Linked DNA regions of Homo sapiens. The protein of the gene in region 2 interacts with the protein of the main gene of each other region in a biochemical or structural test. Each region holds a gene or a part of one and is shown on either strand. Other genes may lie near its edges. The genes, in order: TSPAN8 and PTCH1.

Evidence for each region.
Region 1: the proteins of PTCH1 (region 2) and TSPAN8 form a complex in vitro, tested with the Homo sapiens proteins (one study listed by BioGRID).

Annotation. Positions count from the first base shown.
Region 1 is NC_000012.12:71,139,875-71,150,381, forward strand, and holds part of TSPAN8 (tetraspanin-8), read right to left. Parts: intron 4,340-10,507; coding exon 4,277-4,339; intron 1-4,276. UniProt on the Homo sapiens protein: Structural component of specialized membrane microdomains known as tetraspanin-enriched microdomains (TERMs), which act as platforms for receptor clustering and signaling.
Region 2 is NC_000009.12:95,441,968-95,452,474, forward strand, and holds the end of PTCH1 (protein patched homolog 1), read right to left. Parts: intron 7,974-10,507; coding exon 7,874-7,973; intron 7,357-7,873; coding exon 7,102-7,356; intron 5,485-7,101; coding exon 4,945-5,484; 3' UTR 4,944-4,944; intron 4,425-4,943; 3' UTR 1,013-4,424; downstream 1-1,012.

The DNA.
Region 1 (10,507 bases), on a different chromosome or scaffold from region 2:
GAAAATTTATTTCCTTGAAGTTTATTTTGCTCATTCAACAAATATCCATTGAGTGCCTCCTATGTGTCAAGTCCTGTGCCAGGACCCTGAAATACATCAGTGATCTTAAAAAGTACAAATCCTTGCCCTCATGGAGCTCACATTCTATTGAAGTGCTTATATTTTTCTAAAATGATATGATGAAAGCTGGGTGGAAGAAATGTAATAGGTTTTTTTAAACCGTATTTTTAAAAGCTTAGGACAGTTACTTTTACTCTTCTTGATGTAATCTTTGGTTCACATATTTTGTGTATTCTATATAAAGTGCATTATAAAAGCATGTGTTGTTATGGTTTTTAATTCTTTAAAAAGTTCAAGCTCTTTAAACTATTGATAGACACAACAATATGAATTAATTTCAGAGTCATTATGCTGAGCTAAAGAAGCCATAGAAAAAAGTAAATACTGTATGATTCCATTTCTATAAAGTTCAATCATAAGCAAAACTATGGTTATAAAAATCAAAGCAGTGCTTGACTTTGAGCAAGGCAGAAGGGAAAGCAAGAGTTAACTGAAAAGGGACATGAGGGAACTTCCATGGGTTAATAAAAATGCTTTGTATCCTCATTAAAAAGAAATCCAGTTCCTGATATTTCATATCTATTTTATCTCTTTGTTCCCAAAAGCCATAGTCCATAGAGTCATCTAGAAACTCTATTTTGACTGTTAGTTAATGAGATATGAAGGGAAAAAAAATCCTAGAGCCCTTTATAGTGGGTGGGCTACCCATCAGGCATAATTCAGTTCTCCCAACAACACACACATACTCGTCTTCATCACCCTCATAACACTTAGCCTCAGCCACCTCTTGTCCTCGATAAGTGGATTTATCCAGAAGTAAATCACAATTAAAAAGTAAAGCCTTGTGCGTGTCTTATGCATAAATCCTATATGTAGCCCATTTGCCTTCTATAACCTCTATCTACTGGGCTGTCTCTAGATAGAGCACTAGTTCCTAGACTAACTCGAAACCTCTGCCTCCCAGAATGGGCTATATAGCATGTAGGTCAGCTCCCTTAACAGTCAATACAAAAATGACTGCTATGTTCTAATGATATTTTTGTTTCTCAAGGCTTTTTAAATCTACTTATTGCCTAGAGGAAACTTTTATTCAACAGTCAATAGGAAGGAATGTGCTGAAGTTATAAAAGCATTAAAACAAACATCTATATTTTGTCAGGGTCCTAATAAATAAGTTTGTAATCCTGGAACAGTCACCCAACCTAGTGGGCTCCAGTTTCCCCATTTATAAAAGGGAATTGGGTCAACCTCTGTGATAGCCAAGGCCTCCTTTGTCTCTAAAAGTCTATGCTTACAGATAATGTTTCAATTTACGTATTTTGAAAGCTTGGTTAAGTCCTAAAGATTTTTGTTTGTTGGTTTTTATTGTTTTCTCATTAATATTAGAGCTAAAAAATCAGTTTTGTTAATAAACAGGCAGGACATTGGAATCAAAATAAATGTGACAAAAATAGAAGTGTTAGGAAACTAGCTCTATGGACTTCCTGCTAAATATTGCTTCACTAGAATATTGTGGCCAGTACAGGCAAACCCTATGAGAGGATGGAAGCCTCGCTAGCTGGGTTATCAGAACTTAGAAAAGATATGCCAGACATACAAATAATAGTTCAAATATCTACACATGAGGCCAAGATAGTGTGACCAGCACTTGTGCAGCAGGTAGTGAGACACTTCTATGAGGCTAACCTGGGCAGGGTGACCCACTGCCAGAGACTAGCCAGAAAGCAGTGTGTTGACTGTCTAGTGGTCATTGTTCCAAGTCCAGCCCAACAAGTGGTTATTCTTATTCAAGAATGAAGTGGAAATCTGAGTTCAGATGTTTGCACCAGGGGAGGAACAGCAGGGTTTGAAAAGCTGTCTTGAATGAACACTGTGTCCCTGTGTGTCTTAGGACAAGGGGAGAATTTCTAAAGACAGAGAAATTCAGCTGGTCCTGAAAGATGAGGACTCAGGAATCCTCTTTGGATCAGAAGGGACCTCCTGGGACAAGGATGGCTGCTCATGTGCTTTTCCTCATGGTGCTAAGTTTATCCTGAGGTAGAAAAAAGGGTCTTCATGAGACACTTCAGCAGAAAGTTCTGTCATTTCCCTGACATCCTTCTTTTCTGTGTTTATGCTCATGTTTTTCCTTCCAAAACAGCTACCTCTGTTTTTTCACTAACAAAAAATTCAGCTCTTTGCTCTGTCTTGATTCTTTGTCACTGGCTTGAGAAAAATATAAACCAAGCCAATTTTATATAAGTCAAGCTGGTTAATGTTGTCCTGGCAGACACTGGCTTTTGTTCAGTGTGAGAGGCTGATGAAGCGTGAGTCAAAACGTAACTAAAGATGCTGTCTAGCTCTATTAATTCATTCTTATCCCCAGATGTGGAGGAGCACCCTCTCAAGGACAACAGTTCCCCTTTAATACATTCAATATGTGCAATTTTTTAACAGACTAAACACCAAATTTGTTTACCAGAAGCACTGGGAGGGAAAGAAAATACCAACAGGAAGTAAAATTAAAATAAAATAAATTGCAGGCTACACACACATCTTGAAGAGGCCACAGCACCCTGTAAGTAGGTGACTGTTAATCTCTGTGCTTAATTATGAGTCCCAAAGTCAGACTTCAGATTCTACAGGATGGTAATTCTGCACATCTTCAAATGCACTTCTTGGGCTCACACACCAGAGCTCCAGGCCATCAGGAAGTCACAGTTATGGTTATCAGTAGAAAACAATAAGTGAAATCCTGATGGACTAGGATGTTACTAAAAAGCTGCCACACCCATCTCCCACCCAATTTCTTCACCATGGTGAGGCACAGAATGTGGAAGCCGCTAATTGCCACTGTGATCCTCTGGGCTCCCTAAGGGCAGAAAGCAATTTTAAAAGGAAAAGAACAACAGGAGAGAGAGAGAGGAAAAAAACAAAAAAAAAAAAAACAGAGATAGAGTGAGAAAGAAATTTTCAGAAAAGCCACCCACTGCAGCGAAGAAAACAGAGCAGACATTAATTCCCTTTTCATCTTCCTTTCCACTAGGCTGTGTTCAAAGGCATTTAGCTGCACCATGGTGAAATACGTTTTAGTAGAAAATGCATTGTCTTAATTGCTGGCTTAATAAATCTCTCAGTAATTATCAACTTGGAATCAAAATTCTTCTCAGAGAGGAGAAACTCTCTTTATGTGGGCAAATACCTTAAAAAGGCTCTAGCAGTAGAAGAGGTGATCCTTTAGTGGCAAGAGCCCAGAAAACAAAGAACAAATTAATGGCTCTGAATGTGTTAGAATAATAATTTGTGGGGATGGAGCCCCAGAATAGAAGAAGGGAGAGAAAAGAATAAAAGCACGGGAGCCAGGAAATGGTGCCAGGGTGGTATTATGTTCCGTAAAACTGACAGAACAATCCCCGCACACTCGCCCCTCCCTCTTCCCCCAACCCTTTCCACATTTGTGATACTGTGGCATGGAACAGATACCACACGTATGGGGTCCAATAGCTGGAGCCAGAATTAACCATACGAAATACACTTCCTCCAGACCTGTAGATCTGGGTAAGAGCTTTGGCACTGGGCACGGAATGGTGTGTGGGGGAGGAAAATGGGTCATGTTCATCTTATACATATAGCAATAATCTGGACATCCCCAGAGAATTACTGAGTTTCACCAAGTTAGATTAGCCACTACTGGCAAGTGGTTACCTTCACTGCCAGTTGCCACAGGTAAATAACAAGTACCCTTGTACCTTGTTGCCTTTAAAATACAGATTCAAATTATTCTTCTCCAAGAAAACTTCTCATTTTCTTTCCTTTTGGACCAACCACATTGGGATCAACTAAATTATTGTCAAAACCTTCTACTATAAAAATTATTCTTCTTGGTGAGAAGGAGAGGTGGCCTATATCCTCAATATAGGCCTTAAACAAATAGTAAAGGAGGAAAATTTCCACTTTGGCCCCTTCCCACCTGCATCTCACTGAATTTTTTTGAATTTTTGAATAACACCTCCTCCATTCTCTAGAAAGATTTTTCCACATCTAGCACAGTGCCAGCCACATAGTAATTTTAATTGATTGAACTGAATTATAAAATCACATAACAGCACAAGTGATTACATGAAGCAGTTAAGAAAAATGTTTTAGACATGTTTATTACTATTATTGTTATAACTTTCATTATTATAAATGAAATAAACTACATTGGGGAAAGGGTGACTTGTTTTTGCATACTTACTGCTTGAGAGTCATTGCTTACTCGTACCCATATTGCTAATGCTAGGATCAAGATACCACATAGCTGCAGAAAAAAACAAACAAACAAAAAGAATACAATTAGGATCATATGAAACTCTATTTCCACACCCTCCTATCTATCCGGTGACAGTAGTTCATCATCGACTATACTATCACAACCTGGAAGACATAAATGAGGCATATTCATATACAGATCATTGTTGAAATGTTAAATTGCAATGTGTAAGTTTGATGAGAATAATTCTATTTCTCATCCACAACTCACTCACAGCTCTATGGACAAGAAGTTATTTCCATTAGGCCTGGAAAGATTATTTTTCCATGTAACTCTAGCCCTGTGTTTCTGCTAGATTTTAGCATACAAAAGAAAAGTCACAACAGTTTAAAGATAAAATATCCTTATCATGCCTCTGGGCTTGTTTGTGAGAAGCTATGTTGGACCAGGAAAAAAGGGAATGACGGAATAGTCACCATTCATTTAAGATTCGACAGGAAGGGAGATGTTGGGATAGAGGGGGAAAAAGTAAAACATACGACAAGATGTGCAGTTAAGCAACAAGGCTATATAATAATCAACACTTTTTGAACCCAAATAAACTCTCTTAAAAACAAGCTCTTTTAGGTGGTAAAGTTTACTCACAGAGAAGGAACAATGAAAGACAGAACTTGAAGTCTTAAATTCCTTTAATGATTTTACCAGATTATTTAATTTGGACCAATGCCAACACAATAAAATGTAAAACACATTTTACTTTAGTGTAAGGAAAACTCTTGTCATTCAGGGTTTAAAAAAAAAAGTTATGCATTGTGGCTTCAAAAACAAAAATCAAAGATCTATTATTAGATAGAGATGTTAAGAGCTGTGTCTGGTAACATACCAGACACAGCAGGCCTTGGGGGACTTAGTAGACAATTCTGACCTTGCTGTGCTCTGACAGACAAATGTCCTTGGAGCATCATTGCTTTCGTGCATGGTTGAGACATACGCCTAGAACCCCAAGACAGCACTTTTAATGGCTTCTCATTGAGTTTGCAGGGGAAATAGAGTCAAGGGCTCTGTTAAGGAATAGGAAGCACAATGAGTAGTTGAGTAACCATAGACTCTGTGCTCCCTAAAAGACCTTGAAAATCATCTAGGTCTAAACCTCTCATTTTGAATGGAGAAATTGGAATCCTGGGCGCTAATTATTACATCATGAAAACCCGGAGCAATTCCTAACCAATCTGCCCTTACAACATACTTCAGCTCCTACAAAATAACTAATGCAATTAAAAACCAAAGCTCTTTAACCACCAAATAACCTATGCAATTATCTCATACACACACATAGACACACACACACCATAAAATACAAATGATTAAAAAACACAGCTTTCGTGTTTGAAAACTTTCCTTACTTCTCTAACCCTGAGATTTATAGCATCCTTTCACAAAATTCTAATTTCATTTGCAAACAAAGACAAATGCTCATTTTAGCAGTCCTTTGTTAAACAGTTTGTGAGTGATAATTTATGTCAAATGATAATGAGACCCTCTGGGATTTTCAGTAATTTCATACCAACTGAATTTTTTGTTTGTTGTTTAGTTTGTTCACTGATTATCTTCTTTCGTTTTCTTCTCTTTTCACAAGCAGATTCATAATGATTGGCTTAATAGTCATTCTGGCCTTCATCTGTAACTAATGAACCTTGTAGCTATTATGAGTAGCATTCTTTCCTGATATTTGTTAAACTATCAACGAAAAAACTTTAAGAATTCTTAGTAAGAGCTTAGTAAGAACTCAGTGTGATATTTTTTAAAACTTTTTTTGTTCGTGTATCACTATTCACTTTTTCAAGGTATTTAGATATCAGATCATTCATAAATCTTATTAAATCAATCATATCTGCCCCTCAGATAGCAACTTTTAGTCTTCTCAGCCACTGAAAATTTTCTGTAACATTAACATTTAAAAGAAAGAGTAACCAGTTGTTTCAGAAGTCAAAAATATTTTGCCCAACTAATCTTCAGAATTAGACAATCTTTCTCAGGAACTTTGAAGTTGGCCAAAGTATCATTTCCACCCCTAACTCTTATCTTTTCTTCAAACTTCATTTTAAAAATGAAACAAATGTTTAGAGTATATCATTCTCATTTGAGTGGAGAAATTCCCATGTAAATATCAGTCTAATATCATGAAATTATTCGTAACTTTGTTGAATGACTTTGAAAGTCAATTTATTTTCTATCAAGAATGACCATCCTAGAGTCATGAATAATACTAAACTATTTCATCCCATTGTTAAAAGATTGACCATCATAATGGTACTTGGAGCCCTTTACCAAGTTTAGCTTTTAGAGCTTTTCCCCTAATGTTTTTATACTATTTTAAACAATTAAAAGTATAAATTAATAAATAAATGCCTGCTCTCTACTTTCGTTAATAACATTGTAAAAGTAAAATGGGTTAGTATGGTGGTTCCAGGACCCTGTGGAACTGACTAGGCCTACCTTTCCCCTGCTTCTGGTCTCTCTTTGAGAATTGTTCTGGTTTTCATTCAGCTTTCATGGAACAGCCATCATTTTATGGAATTTGGATGCAATTGGTCTGGACCAGCATCCTAAGAAATTAGGCAATTTTGATATTTGCTTATAATGGACTGAATTGTGTCTCCACAAAATTCATATGTTGAAGCCCTAACCTCCAATGTATCTGTTTTTGATGATAGGCTTTTAGAAGATAATTAAGATTAAATGAGGTCATGAAGATGGGGTTATAATCTGATAGAACTGGTGACCTTATAGGAGATAAATCTTTCTTTCTCTACTCATACCCAGGGAAAGGACATGTGAGAACATGAGAAGATGGCCACAGAAAGAGGGTCCTCACCGGAAACTCAGTTGGCTGGCACCTTAATCTTAGCCTTCCTAGCCTCCAGAACTATAAGAAAATTAATTTCTGTTGTTTAAGCCACCCAGTCTACAGTATCTTGTTATGAGAGCCCAAGCAGATGACTAAGAACAGGCAGATGCTGAAGACCATAAAATATCAGGAAAAAAAAGGGGGCGGGGGAAGATACCATCCAGAAGAAAGATAAATGGTAGAATGTTGATTTGTCCTTTTCTTTGATAATGTGTCTCCAATCATCCCTACTTCTTCCCTCCAAATTGTACCCTTTTATTTGGTGTTTATTGAAGTATGTTTGGAGAATGCTGAAAATGCTGTGTTAGGAGGAGGAGTGGATTTTGAACTACATCATTATTGGTCCCAAAATGGACACCTTTTAGGTAAGCTTAAGAAACTCTTCTTGTGCTGCTCCTGAGAGGATAAAAAAGAATAAGAAAATATGCAAGTGGATAACTACAAGATTTGTTTTTATGATAAACACAGAACACTAGAGGCGACTCCATGATTATAGGGAACAAGGATTCCGAAAGCCCTAACATACTAGGACTGTACTGCTGCTGCTACTGTTATTGTTCATTTTCAAGTTTCTTTTACTAAACATTTATTTAAAAGTCTTAGTTCAATTGTATTGTGGTAAGAGAATGCAGACTGTAGGATTGTTACTTGTGAGTTTTTTTGCATTTCCTTCATCAATTTCTAAAGATTCAGAGATACTAGAAAAGACAACAAAGTCTCAAGAGGGTACAAAGTTTATTAGAAATTTAGTAAATATACTTTATTCATTAAATCATTTAGATCCCCTGTATCCATGTTTTTTCTTTTCCTTCCTGAGTTATCAAAAACTGAGAGGCAGGTTAAGTTGTGTTAAGCTGAATTAATGGAGTTTGCATTTACTATTCTGTATCTCTAACAGTGTTCCCTCCATATAATCCAATAAATGCTATTTAGTGTAATCAGTCTTGGGCTTTAGCGCAGAGTAAATGTTACTAAATTGCTATTTTCTATTACATCTCTTTCCAAATATCCTTCCAATCTACATTTGAGATAATAAAAAATATAACTATTTAGACATGTGACTTCTTTATTTCCAGACCTAAAATGGTTAGCCATTTAACCATGATTTTCCCATGCTTCAATTATCCATTTTTACTTATACCTTAATCATTTTGGATATGTTTCAGTAAATTTTACAGTGTGAATACCTGAAGATCTCTTTCTCTCTTATTCATTTGTGAAAGGCTCTGAATACTCAGCAGACATTGTTTCATTGTCTTCTGACTTTCAGGGTTACAATAGGAGAAGAATATCACCAGCCTTATTTTCGTTCATGCATTATTTGCTTGTTTTCTTTTTTGTCAGTTGTATCTAGACATTTGTAAGATGTTTATTTATCTTTTAACTAAGTTAGTAGTTTTCTTAACATTTATTTAGGCATAGATGTCTTCTTTCACTGGGGTAGATCAGGCACTTGCCATCTGCATACAGGTATGTTTTCAGCTCCACAAAATTTCCATATATTAATTTGATTATTATTTGTGTTCCATTTATTTTGTCCTCTTTTTCAGGAGTACAGCTTATTTTGGGTTTCCATTCTCTGTTGTCTGTATCTATTATCTTCTTTCACAATATTCTGATTTCTTATTTGATTTTCCTGTGGGAAAGCTTATCAGTTTGGGATTCTATGTCACTGTCTTTATTTAATGTGATCTCTACAGTGAAGTTTAATTCTGCTATTATGTTTGTAGTTTACTTGCAGTCCTTACATATTTTATCCATTTCCCTTTTTATCTCATCCCGTTGTTTTCCAATAAATTTTATTTTCTCTTATGGCCTCCATTCACTGTTTCATGAGAGGTTACTTTCTAGCATCACATTGTGGATACCAATTTCTACATACATTTTTTCAGGATTCTAGAATATTTATTTCAGGGATGTGTGCTTGTCCTCTAAGTCTTCAGGGTGGCAATATCTTTCACTTGTTCAACAGTATTTTTTATTAGGTCTTATGCTAAATTTCCTTGAAAAAGATGAGACCAATTCTGATTTAGAGTTCATTCAGAGTAGAATGTGCTGAGGCAGGTGGATCACCTAAGGTCAGGAGTTCAAGACCAGTTTGGCCAACATGGTGAAACCTTGTCTCTACTAAAAATACCAAAAAAATTAGCCGAGTGTGGTGGCACGTGCCTGTAATCCCAGCTACTCAGGAGGCTGAGGCAGGAGAATTGCTTGAACCCGGCAGGTGGAGGTTGCAGTGAGCTAAGATCACGCCATTGCACTCCAGCCTGGGCAACAAGAGCAAAACTCTTGTCTCAAAAAAAAAAAAAAAAAGAGTAGAATGTGCATTCCCTTTACAAGCATGGCCTGATGTAGTTCTGATCTACTAAGCCTCATGCGATATTGGATTTTCTGATGCTGTAAACCAGCAGAGTAAATTAAAATCTTCAACTTTTAGCAGACTCTGCAATCATGGTTTTTAAAAAATCTTCAGCCCCATATTGTTGCAGGAAGTCAGGGACCCCAAACAGAGGGACTGGCTGGAGCCGCGGCAGCGGAACATAAATTGTGAAGATTTCATGGACATTTATCACTTCCTAAATAATACTCTTATAATTTCTTACACCTGTCTTACTTTAATCTCTTAATCCTGTTATCTTCGTAAGCTGAGGATGTACGTCACCTCAGGACCCTGTGATAATTGTGTTAACTGTATAAATTGATTGTAAAACATGTGCGTTTGAACAATATGAAATCAGTGCACCTTGCAAAAGAACAAAATAACAGTGATTTTAGGGAACAAGGGAAGACAACCATAAGGTCTGACTGCCTGTGGGGTCGAGCAAAAAGAGCCATATTTTTCTTCTTGCAGAGAGCCTATAAACGGACATGCAAGTAGGGAAGATATTGCTAAATTCTTTTCCTAGAAAGGAATATTGATATTAATACTATGGGGAAAGAATTGCATTCCTGCAGGGAGGTCTATAAACAGCTTCTCCGGGAGTGTCTGTCTTATGTGGTTGAGATAAGGACTGAAATACGCCCTGGTCTCCTGCAGTACCCTCAGGCTTACTAGGATTGGGAAACTCCACCCTGGTAAATTTGGGGTCAGACCGGTTCTCTGCTTTCAAACCCTGTTTTCTGTTGTTTAAGATGTTTATCAAGACAACACATGCACCGCTGAACACAGACCCTTATCAGTAATTCTGCTTTTGCCCTTTGCCTTATGATCTTTGCTTTTGCCCTTTGCCTTGTGATCTTTTTTGGACCCTTATCAGGAGTTTCTGATTTCGTCCTTGTCCTGTTTCCTCAGAAGCATGTGATCTTTG
Region 2 (10,507 bases):
CCACCCTTCAGAAGTTTTCAAGGGATATTTATCTCTTTAATTTACAGATGAGGACACACAGGCTCTGGGGTTTTAAGAGACTTGCCCAAGCCAGTCAAGTGGGTGACAGGGAGCCCTCTCCGTGGAAGGGCCCGGCGTGGCTCCCCCTCCCCTCTAGGAAAGGGGCCCACACTCTCCTTCCAGGTCCTCCCTCACTGTGGGGTGAGCACTAAGAAGGGAGTTCCTCACTCTGGACTCCCAGACGTAACAGTCAAGCTCCTGGCCTGGGCTCACCCACAGAGGAGCATGTGTTTTGTGAAAGGACCACACAGTGGAGTCGGTATCTCTGTGCCATTTCCAGATCCGGCCCGCACTGGCCCAGGAGCCGAAGCCAAATGATAGAACCTGGCCACACTCAGCTGGAATTTCGGGATCGCCTCCGCTGGTGCATCACAACCACCAGGACAGATCGTTAAAGCAGATTCCTGGACCTCACTCCAAGATTCTGAGTTAGGTGGTGTTGGATTCGGTTTTTCTAGCAAGCTTCCAAGGCAGGCTGATTCGTGGACCACACTTGACTAGCACTGGCCTATGTTACCTTGTCTAGAGATGGATTGGCAGGTGTCTTACGGCCAGATAGTAAATATCATAGTCTCTGCAGACCATAGTCTGTGTTGCAGCTACTGAACTCTGCCGTTGCAGCAGAAAAACAGCCATCAACAACATGTGCGGCAACAGGCACGACTCTCTCCTCATGAACCTGTGCAACAGGACATGGCCAGCCGGCTGTGGCTCACTGACCCCTCTGCAACTTGCCCATGTGCACAGCAGTGTGGGCCTTGAGTTCAGCCCCACCACTCCTTGCTTACACAGCTGTAACATGGACATGATATTCCTGGCCATATTTTTCTCCATGCCTATGATGAAATCATTGCTTACCAGGAAACACTCAAAAACTGTTCTGTATCAGGTTCAATCAATTCCATATTATCTTTGACACTGTTTAGAAGTATGACACCTTCACTGATGATAATCATCTTTGAATTTGGCTTTATTTATGTTCCCTCATTATTAGGCATCACATAAGGGAAATAAGTATGCTAAGAGAGATGACAGAAGGACTAATTTTGATGGTTAACTTAGGAAGTTTCTTGGTATGAGAAAACAAAAATAGGGTCAGGTGATAAGAAATTAATTAATGGGTACAATGTACACTATTTGGGTGATGATCACACTAAAAGCTCAGCCCCCACTTTGTAATACATCCATGTAACAGAGCTATGCTTATACCCACTATTTATACAAAACAAAAAGGAGGAAAACCTAAAACTCTCTCCATCAGATAGAGCAAAAAAGAAGAGTGTCACAAGGTCAGCAAGATGAAACAACAGTTTCTGATGGCTCCAACACTAACTGTCTCTCCCAAGTATTTTAAAGAAAAAAAGCATTCTACAAACAAAGATATAACCAACAAGTTATATTATTTTTTATTCATGTTAGAATTTCTATCAGTGTTTGAACATTAATTATTTAGAGAGTTTGTACATTTTCACCTTCCAAGGTTTGAAATGAGAAGCATGCTAGGTCGCCAATGGTAACTAATAAACACTTCATAATCGCATGAATATCCACTCTGCTCTGACTCTCTTAACACTGTTAAACATTTTCTTTCCTTGCTGTAATTTACAATGAAAACTGTGCCCACTCATGTCTCAGCAAAGTTCCAGACATTATGGATTCATCACATATAAATTCTTTAAAAATATACTTCTGTCAAAAGACTTGATGACTACTATGTACACTACAAAAATAAATCTTCATATAAATAAATTATATGGCATACTTTTATCTTTGTAATTGAAATGACACAAACTCATTTCCACCAAAATTGGCAATGAGACCCAGTTTGAATATTTATTTCCTTTAAACTCCTTACCCTAAAACCTACCATGAGTCCTTAATGTAAATGTTATATACTCTGAACTATTTAACATTAGTAAGCACTCTATACAAATAAAAATTCTGTCCAAAAGTAAAACATAGCTGTAATGTTTCCAATAGAAATAAAATCCCTGCATTTTTTTTTGTTATAAACTGGCATGACAAATACTGTAGAGGAAAACATTCTTATGATACAAAATTATAAATATCAGCAAAGTTTTTTTTTTTTTAAAAATTAAAACATCCAAATGAACAAACAGGACAGACAAAATAAAACTATTAAAAGAGAGAGAGAAATTCTAATTCCCTGCCAGCCCCACCCCCCGCCCACCCCAGTTCTCCCTTTGCCAATGTGACTATTGGAGAAAGTTCTACACCATGCAGAAATCAGGGGCCGCGCAGCCTCCGGCGCAACACGAGCTGGGCTCAGGAAGGGAGCGAGGGCACGCCAGGAGCCAGAGGGAAGTCGACTTCAGAATTCTGCATCATCCCTCCTCCACGCAGGACGTTTTCTGAGCAGAGCTGGGTGTTAGGATGGCAGACCATGTGGGTGACAGGCACCAAGACAGCAGCAGGGGGGTGGCCAGGGTCCCCAGCAGAGACACACACACACGCACGCACGCACACACACACACACACACCCAGCAGCCACAAGCGGCTCCCAATCAGCATCTTAAAAGTTTTGTGGTGAGTATCAGGGTCTGAGGTCACTATGCTGTGGGTATTTCTGGGGGCCCATTACCTTTCTGTTAAGATTTCCCAGGTAATTTAAAAGGGAGTAACAGGAGCTGCCACTCGTGAGCGCCTCACAGTAGCTTAGGCTTCAGCCCTGCAGGGACCCCGCCCTTTCCTCTGACTTCTTGTCTGTAACAAGGTGCTGGTGTGGATTTGGATGGGGAGCCGACACTGGGTGCTTCCCTGACATGTGCTGGTCTCTGGTTACGAGATGAGGGAGCCCACACCTCAGAGCAAAAGAAGAGAACCAGTACAGAAGCAACTTTTAAAAATATGCCTGGTTGAGAGACCTGCCCCTGCCTACATCTTTCAGTGGGGTGTGTCCATCCTCCTGCTTTCCCACATCACATTGAAAGAGCACTAATGACGGGGAGGATGGAGACAATGTTTGGATTTACTTAGGAAGCACGTACCCTAAACACTGGTGCATGAAGAATCCCCCCGGAGCTCTTATCCTACATAATGCCTGCCTCTACACCACAATGCATGCTCACCACTTAGTTTTAAAGAAGATGCAAACAGATCTAGAAAGCCTCAACCAGCTGCTCCATTTAAGAGAGGGAGTTTAAACTATAGGGACTCAAAACATCATTTCTGGGAGACTGTGGGCCAAGAAAGAATTAACTAAATAGGTTTTTCTACCTGTGACAGGGCCACATCCACTCTTGAATTTGGGGGTGTTGGGGGAGGGGTCGTGTGTGTGTTGGTCAGAAGAGGGGCACCATGCTGCATGCTTTTTAGAGTATACAGACTCTCATGGCCCAGCCAAGGCTCAGCACTAGGCATGTCACCGAATTCTCTAACACCCACCATGATGAACTGATGTGAGCTCCATACCCTGAGGTTCCAGCATCCATCACAATGATCCGAGAGAAGGAGATTATCCCCCTGAAGCACAAATTGGGGTCCTGGATGGCAGCCAATGATCATAAGAGATGCCGTAGACACGAGGAGAGTCTAGCTTTTGCCGGGCTGATTTGAAAGGATTAGGTGGATGTTTAGGGCCAGCCCTCACCAGCACGAAGAAAAGATATCCTGACGCTTCCAGCCTGACTAGGTCAGAGCCTACTACAGGTTACAGACAGTGTAGAGAAACAAAACAAGACAAAAAAAAAATCACAGTACAGTACATGGTGAACTCACACACGTGTTCACACGCACAGCCAAACAAGAGGACCGCACACAACGACACCTAGAGAAGCCACCAGGATTAACGTGCTTTCTTCATATCTGCTCATTAAACAAAAAAATTATCACGCATAGCGTGTTTGAAAGTTAACAGTAACATTTCATACTACCACAGGGTTGTGATATGCAAATTTAAAATATTTTAAACAGAAACCTTTACAAAATAATCCTATTACATAAGCAATATTTGCATAGAATTATACAAGTAAATTATACAATATTTAAGCAGCAGCAACATATGCTGAAATTTAAGACTAATGAAGCTTGGTTGTGGCACGGAGCCCAATGCACAAATACGGAGAGGCCCCACTGTGGCCTCCACACTCTGGGGCAGGAGTGGAGAAGCCCCAGATCATACCACTTTACATCCTTCCTTCCTATATTACACATGTGTACATCTCTTAAATATTTATAGAAATATTTAACAAAATAATACAATCGGTTACAGTAACAATGAACTGCTGTCCTGGCACAGGGCATCTTTTCCATAACTCCAACCAGTTCTCTTCAAGCAGTTCTGGAAAGAGGTGGGGGTGGGGGGTTTCCAATCTTTGGCCTCTTTGCTTCAGATTTTAATCACCCTTTAAAAGGAAGCAAAAAAGGAAGTTGAACAGAGTAAGAGGTGTGCAAGTCCGTATTTATAAAGTACAAAAGCAGGCAGCAGTAACCTTGGTATTAGAAATCACGAGAGTGGGGTGTGGGCCTGAGGTGTCCCTGGGGGCTGCTTGTGACCTCTCCCTTCATCTGGGGGCTGGTTACACGGATGCGTTCCCATGTGACCAATTCGCTGTGGCATGCACCTCCATAAAGACTGGCAAATATTGGTAAAAGGTGGTGCTGTTTGTGTCCTTGTGGCGCTGCACCGACCCTCCGCAGGTTAGCAGTGGGGGAAGAGAGCAGTGTGGAGCTGGACTGGTTCCCCAAGGATGACAAAGCTTGGACACATCAGCCTTGCTCTGGGGATAAAAGGTCACTGGGGTCCAGCGTGGGATGTGCCCGAGCGCCACAGCCCCTCGGGGATGCCGAGAACCCCAGGAGAACCTTGTCCTCCTCTTTGCCTGGCTCTAGGTCCCTTGGCTGCCCTTGTCAGTGGCACTCACCTCAGTTGGAGCTGCTTCCCCGGGGCCTCTCCTCGCATTCCACGTCCTGCAGCTCAATGACTTCCACCTTCGAATCCCTCCTCTCACACCGGACGTGGAAAGGCACGTGGGGGTCCTCAAACAGGCCGTGGTCAGTCTCAGGGTAGCCTGGGCAGAGTCCCCCTCGGGGGTTCCGCCCAGGCCCAGGGACAGGCGGCGGGTGCACGGCGACAGTCACGGAGGCAGAAGCCGTCACAGTGGTGATGGGCTGGCAGTAGCCGGGCACGGAGCTGCCCATGGCAGTGGACGCTGGGTTCCGAGGGTTGTGAGAACGGGCCCCGCGAGGGCCCCAGCGGGCCCTATTGCTAGGGCCAGAATGCCCTTCAGTAGAAATTTCAAAAGCGTCTCTGCGCGGTCTGTAGGGGGGTGGCCACAAGCCTTCTCTGGGGGGGTCCCTGCGGGGCTGCTGGCCTTGCCGTCCGGGAGGCAGGGACCCTGAGTCCAGGTGGGGCTGCTGTCTCGGGTTCGAGGGTGGGTGATGCCTGGATTCGGGATGGACCACCTGCAGAGGGTGAGGGTGGGTTAGAAGGGTGGTATCCCAGGCTGGGCATGGTCCCCGCAGCTCCCACACTTCCCTCCTTGGGTTTCACCAAAGACTCAGTCAACCCTGGGGAGCCAATGGGGGCCTTCCACCCACAAAAGAAAAGCCTGTCCTTCTAATAACCTCCAGGACCTGGCGGAGGAGCGTGTTGTTTGAAAATCCTGTTTCCAGGCTTTCTCTGACACGGCTGGCTGGACACGTACTGCTGCTGCCCATAAATGTGGGCTGTGGTCAGAGCATCCAAGCTGCTGCCCCCCACAACCTGCCCCCGACCCTGTTAGGTTCTGCAGGCTCTGAGCTGCCCCTCTCCCGAAGTTGCTAAGTGTGCGGCCCTGGCTGGCCTGAGTGCAGGACGCTGGCAGGACTGTCTCTGCCTACTCTGTCAAACACAGTAGCCGCTCCAGACATGTGGTTGCTTAAGTTTTAATGAACTAAAATCCAAAATCCAGCTCCTCGGTAGCCCCGGCCACATTTCAAGTGCTCCACAGCCACGTGTGGCCGGTGGCTCCCATCCTGGAAAGCAGAGAGGGCATTTTCGTCACTGCGGAGGGCTGTGGCGGGCAGCCTGTTCCATCTGATTGTTAAGAATCTGGTCTCTGCGTCTCTATACAAAGCACAGAGCAACACAGTGGCCACATCAATCAAAAGGACCGTGACCAACTTCAAAGTCGTTCAGCTTGTACCTATTTTTAGGCTCCTGCTGAACAAAACCAGATTCACACTGCAGCTCAGCGGGCGTCGTCGCGGGGGGTAGGAGGAGGACAATTCAGGTTATTTGGTTGGCCTTTCTCTCTTTCACGGAAGGGCTGCTCTGGCCTGGGACTGGAATACCCATTTCCTGGAGGGACAGCAGGGGGCCCTCAGTGGAGCAACATCAGCCCAGAACCTTCCTTGAGTTTTCAGGGCTGAGCCCATCCCAGGGAGCACAGGGTGGAGGAAAGGACCCAGGTCCTTGGAGCCTCCGAGGAGGGGCTCCCAGGCTCCTGGTGACCTCCTGAATCACTGAAGGCTAAGAACTCAGGGGTGGTTCTTGGCCTCTCTGCTCTTTCCTGCCACCTGGAACATGAGCTTGGAGCCCCAAAAGCTATGGTAAAGTATTTAGACAATAATAATGAATGTTGTATCAAGGGCATTGAAACCTAACAGAAATGAGAGAAGGAAAAAACCTGACCTCTGTTGGCAATAAAAATACTACTAGTTTTAGAAAATATCACTCTCAAATGACATGCACCTTAAGAGGAAAAAAAAAAAAAAGGCAGGAATGCTTTATCTCTGGCCTTTGAAGCCCAAACTGTCCTCACCCTGAACAAGATAGATGCTACTGCTTTGTGCAGTGACATTACTGGCCCCTGCCCTTTTTATCCTTTATGAGATCAAACCACAGGAAGATGGCATTTGTATAGTTGAGAAAGAGTTAAATACTGGTTATTTCCTATGATTTGACCTAGTCTGTACCTTATCTCTGCATCCCATCTGCCTGTGTGATGTGCTGCTCAGCAGACAGGAGCCCCCGCTGGACCTCCAGGCCCACTACCACGGTGGGAAGACCCCTCCCCCTGGTTCTGCAGAGTCACTTACAGTGGAGTGGGCGAAGACGGGGTTTTCTGTGGCTTCCACGATCACTTGGTGGGCAGGGCCTCCCGCGCCCTGCTGGGCCTCGTAGTGCCGAAGCTCCTCGCTGAGGCCTGACACTGTCGTCTGGGAACTATACTCCGAGTCGGAGGAATCAGACCCGCTGTGCGTGTGGCCGGGCGGCATGGCGAAGCGGACCACGCTGGGGGGTGGCTCAGGGGAGGGTGTGGGCAGGCGGTTCAAGCCGTTGGCTGGAGACACCTATTTAAGGGGATTCCATGTTAAAAGTGTTCTTGTCCATTTACCTGCTGGCCACACTCAAAGCTCAAAGCACGGTATTTTTCAGGGGCCTCTGTTCCCTGCCCTGGGGCCCTGCGCACTGTGCCGTATTAACCTCCCCTTCTCTACCACCTGGAGGACCTTCAGGTCCCGCAGCTGGAGCAGAAGAACTGTCCTCTGCTCCACACTGGAAAGGCAGGATGTGTACTTTTTACTCTTGTGAAGTCCAATTATGCATCTCAAGGGGAAAGTCTTCATTTACTGTATAAAGATCTGTAAGACCCAGGCTGCCAATCAGTTGATTTAGAGGAACCAAACCGAACCCGCCCTCTAGCCCTCAAAGCCAGTACACCGAAGAGGAAAACAGACATGACTCTGAGATGTTTACTGAAGAACCACCAGCAAGTGGGGAGGCACCTAAGTATCGAAGTGAAGAGCGGCACAGGAAACACAGCATTCAGCCGGCCTACACGTGGGACATCCCCGTGTCACTACTGACCTCAGGATATGGTCCAAAGAAAGACAAAAGCACGGGAAGCAAAACCAGCCCATTGAGAACGCCGAGGATGGTGAGGATCGCCAGCACAGCAAAGAAATACCTGGGAGATCAAGAGGAAACGGGAACACGCGCTGTGACAGGGTGGATCGCGCCACCCTCCGTGTGCCCGACACAGCAGCATGGCAACGCCAGAAATGAACAAAACCCACCCCACTGAAAAGGCTGTTATCCAACCGCAGTTCACATTCAACACAAGGTGAGTTTTTGCTTTTTGTTTCTTTACCTTATGACTTTGAGGACTACATTCCACAACCCAAAGTGTTAGTTCATGAAGGGAAGAAAAAAAAAATTAGTTTGTTAATTTGCTGAACTCTGATGGCATGTAATGTTATTTATGAATGTGTTACACAAACACAAAAATATGGAATGCGACCTGAATGGCTGGGCAGACTGAAAGCACAAACACAATGCCGAGGGGCCCCGCTCGTGAAAACCCAGCAGAAGCAAACAAATGAAGTGAAGGGTGTAGAATTTAAACAATTTAGCCCAGGAGGAAAAGCAGCCCACTTCTGCAGGCTGCTAATCCACTGTGAAATGCTTCTGCATCTTACGGCAGAATCTCTAATTAAGTCTCTAGCATATCAGGTAAGGCTTTCCCTGGCCTTTCATTAATCACAACTTTCTGCCTAGAATTCTGTGAGTTCCAGTTTTACCAAATAGCTCCAATTGCAACCTTTTTAGAACACAGGAACCAGCTTTCTGCAAAGAAAATGCTGCCCATTCTGTGGGAGCTGGGGCATTGTGCTGGGTGAGGGCACTCCACAATGGCGGGGCTGCTCTGCGGGCCAATCTTTTGTTGAACAATTTAGCATCTCTGAATACTCTTGTTTTGCGTCAGCCAATTCAAACATAAAGGCCGCAGCACCATGGCAGAGGAGGAGAGTGCAGAAGTAGTTCTGCTTTCCCACCATTGAGGGCTAAGGTCTGGAATCCTTCATGAATACCAAGGTAAACCTGTCAGCCAGGGACAGCCTCTGGCAGACACTCTGCATGGCTGGAGGGCACAGACTCCACGCAGGGATGCGTTTCTGGAACTAATGATTTCTAGGGCAACTCTGATGGAAGTGGGCTGGGGTAGGGGAGAGGCTCAGGATGTTCTGGGAAGGGGGGGGCAAGATATCTATCTGTTAATGGTCCTCTGGTTCATAAAATGGAACAGGCAACCAGTGCTGCCATGTCTATATATGTTTTGACATCAGATGAAAGGAGAGAGAATCCCCATAAAAATACAAATACCTCACAGCTATTGTAAACACTAGAAACTTCTGAACTACATTAGTAAAAACCAAGCAGCCAATGTCTTGGTCTAATGTAAACTGCTGGAACTTTCGGCTGGGGCATGTATCAGCAGCCACATTAAGACATTTGCATCCCATCCATCTAGCTGAAGCATAAACAGGCCAATTAGATTTCTGACGGCTTAGCATATACAGTGTCTGCTCATTTATTTGACCTTGGTGAGGCCTTTATCAGGTTAATCCATCCCATCCTAGAAAATGGGAAGCCCTTTTAAGTGCTTGAAAGAGGAACCCTGATATTTCTGGGCGGGAACAACCCCGGCTGAGAGGAGAGCGCTGGGATTCCAGCTGCCAGGTTTCCAGCTGGGGGCTCTAATTCAGGCTAAGTTTCCTCATTCAGCATCCCCCACAAGGCTGAGCGAGACCCTCCTGTAACTCATGAGACCCCAGCACACCTTGCATTTCCCCTGGTTTTGCCTGTGAACTTGTCTCTCCCCTAAAAGACCTTAGGCTACACAGAGGGATATGGGGGTCCCCATTATTTGCTGTTGTGCAAATGGCACTTATGGGGTGCTTGTTATATTTGTGTTAAACGAGAAAGTAAATATGCAAAAGAAACTCTACTTGACATTGAGCTTTTATATCATAATGATAACGTTAGTGCCTGAAAAAGTGTATACTAAGAACAAAGGAAAAGCTAAAATCAAACTAAGAACTAAAATAAAACACAGACCAAAACATTTAACTCAGTTGGGCAACTCTCTACTTGGTATTGGCAAACAGGAATTTAGGAACTGGCTTGCTGGCTTAGCAGTAGTTTGTGCTGAGAAGTCTAGCTCCATGGACATTGCAGGGAGGTAGCTGGAGATGCAGACCCAGCCCTCATCCCACCTCCCGCCCCCCGAAATCGGCCCTGCACTTAGACCCTCAGATGATTCCTCAGCACATCGGTGTGAGAAGCGCTGGTCTACAGCGATTCCACTTCACCATTCACTCTATGCAAAAACTACAATAAGCAAGCTTGGCACTCATTCTAAGAAGGCGGCCTCCATGATGCCAAATTGCCCAGTGGGCTATGCCACAGGCCAACCAATGGACTCATCTCTTTCCCGTAATAAAACTTTGGCTAAAACTTCTAGTTGAAACCCTCTTCTTTTTACTTGAAGATAAGAAGCGTATCTCTCTCTCTGACACACACACACACACACACACACACACAACCTCTCAGTACTGAAGCGTGCCAAACAAACCAATCATTTCTCACATCTGGTTCTGCCCTGTCATGGTTCTAATCCTGGACTATCTTTTACTTATTGGTGATTCTGGCCTTAGAGCT